2 separate regions of the Homo sapiens genome follow, and region 2 is linked to region 1. The links come from fine-mapping of genetic effects on gene expression. A gene starts in region 1. The other region holds a variant in brackets. All regions are shown on one strand. Distances are from middle to middle. Region 1 holds the start of SPDYA (speedy/RINGO cell cycle regulator family member A). Region 2 overlaps PLB1 (phospholipase B1).

Region 1 (2,904 bases):
AACTCACTGTGCCTTGTATTTTAGTTGTGTCCATATCTGTCTAGCTTGGAAGCTCTAGAAAGGTAAGGCCATGTTGTCTTCATCATTGTGGTACTTGCCATGCCTCTGTGTTTTTCATGTAGCGGACATTAATTGTTCAGTAAATATTTTATACTCGAGGCTGGAAATTAATCATCACAACACCGGTACCTTGCAAAAACAAGGGGAAGAGCAGAGAGAAGTCAGGAAGGATCCTTAGGGAAAAGCTAGAGGAATGAAGCTTGAAGCAGCCATTTTCCTCAAGATTTTCACAACCAGTTGATGCTTCTTGGCCCATTCTCCCATTTATAGGCCAGGGAGAAAGAGTCAAGGGCATGTGTAAGGAAAAATAAGTTCCCAGTTGGCCCCCTCCTCGTACTTGTAGGTGAATTTGTCATTATTGTGCTGTGTGTGGAAGCACAAGAAGGAAGGAATTAACTCGTTCTTCAGAACTGCTGATTGAGGAGCTATTTGCTGGAAGTACCACAAGTAGGCAGAGCCAGGTTGCCTTTTAAGAGTAATCATTGTATTAGCCAAAAAATCTGGAAGCAATCCAAATATTGAAATGACTTAAATGGTCCATCCACTCTGGAATATTATGCAGTCATTGAAAACGTTTCGAAAGACTAGCAACATGAAAAAAGCCGTGATATGGAGACCAAAAAAAAAAAAAAAAGATTTACACTGGGTGTGGTGGCTTAGGATTGTAATCCCAGTGGGAGGATTGCCTGAGTTCAGTTCAAGGCCAGCCTGGGCCACATAGGACTCTGCTCTACAAGGCATGTTTAAAAATTAGGCGGGCGTGGCGGCACCTGTGGTCCCAGCTACTTAGGAGGCTGAGGCGGGAGAACTGCTTGAACCCGGGAGGCAGAGGTATGCAGTGAGCCGAGATCGTGCCACTGCTCCAGCCTGGGCGACAGAGCGGGACTCAGTCTCAAAAAGAAAGAAAAAGCCGGTTATACCTTAGGAGGGACATAAGGAAAGGATGGGATCAAAAAGCTGTTTAGAATTCTTTTTATTTGTTCATTCAACATGCATGTATTAAGCACCCACGTAGTCAAAGGCTAGGACAAAGCCAAAAAGATTACTGCTGCAGATTCACAGTTACAATAGAATGGCCCCTTCTCACAAGAAGCCACCGTATTCACACGTTGTGCTTTTCTCAGTTCAAGCGGCCTCTTCCTTTTGAGTAACCAGGGTAACCACGCTGTGCCCGCGTGTGCCGGGCGGGGAGGGGAGGCCGCAGCCCCAGCCCCGGGGGCCTGGTTGTCTAATCGAAGGGAAGTAAACGGCCCCAACGCAAGCCTGACTGCGAGACGTGCCCAAGGGAGGTAGGTCGAATGAAGAGGGTTGTGTGAGTTTTGCGCGGGCAGGCGGGATAACGGAGGAGGGAGGCCCGCGGCCGAGGCTCGGGCGGGCGGGGGGCAGGGAGGGGCGGGGTTCGCCGGCGCGCACTCCCAGGCAGGCCCCGCCCCCTCGGCCGGCTGTGCGCGCTGATTGGCCCCTGCCGGCCTCGCGCTCCCTCGCTCCGGGTTGGCGGGAGACCTTAGAGCGGGTACCGCTGCTGGCTAGCGACCGACGAGCAACCGTCTGAGGCCAGGAGCGCTGCGACGGAGCCTTGACCGCCGTTGCCCGGCCCTCTCCCGCGCAGCCCCGGGCTTCCGCAGGTACCTGTGCTCGCCCCCGGGAAGGGGCCTCGCAGGCGAATCTCCAGTTTCGAGTGTGCCCGGTCCCTGGGTTCGCTCGCCGGCGACCCCACCGCCCGCCTTAGATGAGAAGGCAGCGCTCCAGCCTCGTCCTCACGCCGCCTCCCGTGGGCGCCCTCAGCTGCCTTCGCGGCGACGACACACGCGCTCCCCGCAGCGGGCTCTGGGCTGAGGGACCTGGCGAGGGAGGCAGTGGCCGCGCAGGTTGGGGCTTTGGCCGCCCTCCGCCCGGCGGCGTAGCGGGTGAAGGTTCCAGGGGAAGGACGGGCAGGGCCGATACCGGAGGCTGCTCCCGAAGCTCGGCCGTCTGCTCGGAGGGAGGGCCCTGGGCAGGCGCTCCCGTCTCCACGTGTGCCTGCCGCCTTTATTGTGGGAGGAATGGAGATTTGGGGGGTCTTTTTGATAAATCCTACCTCCTTATGTCCCATTAAACACCTCTTTTTGTCCCCAAGATCGTCTGCCCCAGAATTTTGAGATCTGAGCTGCTGTGTCTCAGTACCAGGCCCGTAGCTCATTTCTCAGAATTCACGAAGATTCTCTTACATGACATCCAGTAGGACTGGAGGGCCCCTAGCCTCAATCTTTTAAAAAGCCTTATGCCGAGTTGGGCGAATCCTTGAGGCCAGGATTCGAGAGCAGCCCACAGCGAAAACCCCGTCTCTACAAAAAAATAATGAAAAAAAAAATTAACCGGGCATGGTGGTGCGCACTTGTAATCCCAGCTACTTGGGAGGCTGAGGCGGGAGAATCGCTTGAACCCTGGAAGCGGAGGTTGCAGTGAGCTAAAACCCGTCTCTACAAAAAATAACTTAAAAAAAAAGTATCCTGGCATGGTGGCGGGCGCCTGTAATCCCAGCTCCTCGGGAGGCTGAGGCGGGAGAATCGCTTGAACCCGGGAGGCAGAGGTGGCAGTGATCCGAGATCGCCTTATAGCTGGGGTTAGCTGGTTTTGTTTTCTTGGCAAGGTGACGATAAGTAATACTGGAGTGCTTACTATGTGTCAAGTGTTTTACACATGATTTTATTTAATATTTAAAACTGATTTACTGGTTAAAGAATATGGGACTTTGATGTCAGTTCTGCATTCAAATTCTAGCTTTATCACTTACTATGAGCCTTTGGGAAATTTCTTAACTTCTTTAAGCCTCAAATTTCTTATCTAGAAAATAAGGATAAAATA
Region 2 (2,904 bases), 190 kb before region 1:
TACCGTGGCCACCCAAAGATTTTCAGTGGCCAGCTCGCACTGGTTGCTGCTTTTATGGCTTCTTCCATGGACACTTTCATTGGCTATATCCCCTTTGCTGACCTAACTTCTCACAGACATTTCTTTAAACACAGCTTTATTGAGGTATAAATGACATGCAATAAACGTCACATGTTAAAAGGATATAATTTGGCTGGGTGCGGTGGCTCACGCCTCTAATCCCAGCACTTTGGGAGGCCAAGGTAGGCAGATTGCCCAGGAGTTGGAGACCAGTCTGAGCAACTTGGTGAAACCCTGTCTCTACCAAAAATACAAAAAATTAGCCGGGCATGGTGGCATGGACCTGTAGTCCCAGCTACTCGGAAGGCTGAGATGGGAGGATCACTTGAGCTCAGAGGGGTTGAGGCTGCAGTGAGCCGTGATCACACCACTACACTCCAGCCTGGGCAACAGAGCAAGACCCTGTCTCAAAAAGGATACAATTTAACATTGTACCTGTGAAATCATCACCACAATCAAGATGAAAAATGTGTTCATCACCCACAGGAGTTTTCTCAGGCCCCTTGGTAATCTCTCCCTCCTGCTCCTTCCTGTCCCTACCTCACACCCCAGGCAACCACTAACCTTCTTTCCATCACAATAGATTAGTTTGCATTTTTAAAAATTTTATATAAATGGGATCAAAGAGTATATACTTTTTATCTGACTTATTTAGCAAAATGATTTTGCGATGCATCCATGTTATTCGGTATACCAATAGTTCGTCCCTTTTTATGGCTGAGTAGTGTTCCGTTGGCATTCATATCGCTCATCCAGAACACCAAATGGTATTGTTTTATTTATGGCAGACATCAGGGGATGAAGGGAGAACTAATCCTGTCCATCCTGGTTTATTGGAGAGGGAGAAAAAAAAAAGTGAGGAGATGGGGAATGGTGCGGAAATCTAAGTAACCACAGAAAAGAAAAACAAAAGGATTAAAGGAGCAGAGAGCAGGGCTTAGAAGTAAAGGTTAAAGGAGTCATTAAGCCTGGAAAGGAGAAAACTGAGGGATAATTGAGAGCTGTGACTTTTCTCAAATATACAAAAGGTTATTTTTAAAACAGGCAACTGAAGAAGAAATGAACAGGCTTGGCTTACGAAGAAAGAGCTTGAGGAAGTATAAGGGAAAGTCCTGAGGGGAGGCTTGACGGGATCCCAACCCGAGTGGCCGATGAGACTATTGGGTGGCAGGGGCTAGATCAATGTGGCTCCAGGGTCCAGGGCAGCCATGTGATTGTTACTAAGCTGAGATTTCTTGAGAATGGAATGA[C/G]CTTTGTACTGGTAACATCATTCTTCTTGAAACACCTCTCTTCCTAGGCCAAAATCCCATGTCGTGAGTCCTCGCTCCTGAGCCGGCACTAACGCCCCTCTCTCTACCCCCCACCTAGGGACATGCCAGCCCAGGCCTGGGACCTGGTAGAGCGAATGAAAAACAGCCCCGTGAGTACAGGCCCCCAGGCCACCCCTGAAAGGTGCCCATCTCCTGCTGGCTGGGGAGGGGACAGCCCCATAAGGGTCCCTCTCACCACAGCACTTCCTGCTTTGGGCTAGCCAAAAGATCCTCGGAGAAGCAGTCCTTACCAAGGAGGCGCCTGCCCTGGCCACACTCCTAGACGCAGGCTGTGGCACCCCTCACCCCAGGGCCGGCTGCGGGAGGGCAAGGTGGAACAGGGAGTTGGCTGAGGTGGTGGCCTTGGCCTCTGACAGCTTCCTGCTTTAACCAAGAGGTGGCTTCCCAGAGCCCTATTATGTAAATGCAAGGTTCTAAAAATAGGCTTCTCATTCCAATCCAGTTCTGCCTCCTTCCCCTCACCCTGCCCCTCTGAAACTTCTCACTAGCACTTTTTTTTTTAACCGTTCAGTGTTTATGCCTAGGAATTCAGCTCCCGGTGGGATTCCTATTATGGAGGTGGCCAAGTGGAAAGCCAACTGCTTAGAGGGCCTCCCAGCCCCAACCCCGCTTCTCAGTCCACGCTGGGCTCTTCCTCCAGTCTCCTTCCCCCGACCCTAAGAACTCATCCCAGGGGCAGCTTAGGGCCTTTGCTTCTAGCTGCATCCTTTGCCTACAGCTCCCTGGAAGGCCTTCATTTGGGGGGACGTGGTAATCCCCTCGGCATTTAATGGGCCAAGGATATGTGGGACACATCCACATTCTACTTCTCCAGGGACACAACTTTCTTAAGATTTCAAGGGGAAAATAGCCCTCCCTTGTGTAAGCAGAACCCCGTCCCCCGCCAGCGCCCACCGCCAAAAAAAAAAAACATCCTCTCTGTGGAGCACCTTATCCTAGCACCAATTGAGGGCTGGGAAGCCCCACTTTGTTGCTTTTCTTTTTTTTTTTTTTTTAGACGGAGTCTCGCTCTGTCACCCAGGCTGGAGTGCAGTGGTGCGATCTCAGCTCACTGCAGCATCTGCCTCCTGGGTTCAAGTGATTCTCCTGCCTCAGCCTCCCAAGTAGCTGGGATTACAGGCACCTGCCACCAGGCCAGGCTAATTTTTGTATTTTTAGTGGAGACGGGGTTTCATCATGTTGGCCAGGCTGGTCTCGAACTCCTGACCTCAGGTGATCCACCTGCCTCAGCCTCCCAAAGTGCTGGGATTACAGGTGTGAGCCACCGTGCCTGGCCCAATTTGCTGCTTTTCTCTGTTACAGTATAAATAAGACAAAAGGCACTTGGAGGGCGGGCGGGCTGGCCCAGTAGCAACATTTGTATGTGCCTCCCACCAAGGCCTAAACTCAGGATCTTCTGTCCCCTCAGGACATCAACCTGGAGAAAGACTGGAAGCTGGTCACACTCTTCATTGGGGTCAACGACTTGTGTCATTACTGTGAGAATCCGGTAGGCCCCCGACCAACCCCATGG

The links. PIP is the estimated chance that this variant, and not a neighbour inherited with it, causes the effect. A credible set is the group of variants that fine-mapping cannot tell apart.
Region 2: its variant is the best candidate, but not a certain one, in a credible set for the expression of SPDYA in whole blood (TOPMed, PIP 0.61).

Annotation. Positions count from the first base shown.
Region 1 is chr2:28,809,263-28,812,166 of GRCh38, forward strand. It overlaps SPDYA (speedy/RINGO cell cycle regulator family member A), which reads left to right and starts at 1,572. Exons shown (of 8, transcript NM_182756.4): 1 at 1,572-1,685. RefSeq lists silencers at 1,173-1,322, 1,353-1,602.
Region 2 is chr2:28,623,629-28,626,532 of GRCh38, forward strand. PLB1 (phospholipase B1) reads left to right here. Exons shown (of 58, transcript NM_153021.5): 50 at 1,429-1,480; 51 at 2,800-2,880. Among named protein-coding and RNA genes, the nearest start is that of PPP1CB-DT, 130 kb to the right of the region's middle. RefSeq lists enhancers at 1,202-1,351, 1,442-1,601. The variant C/G (reference allele first, on the strand shown) is at 1,311.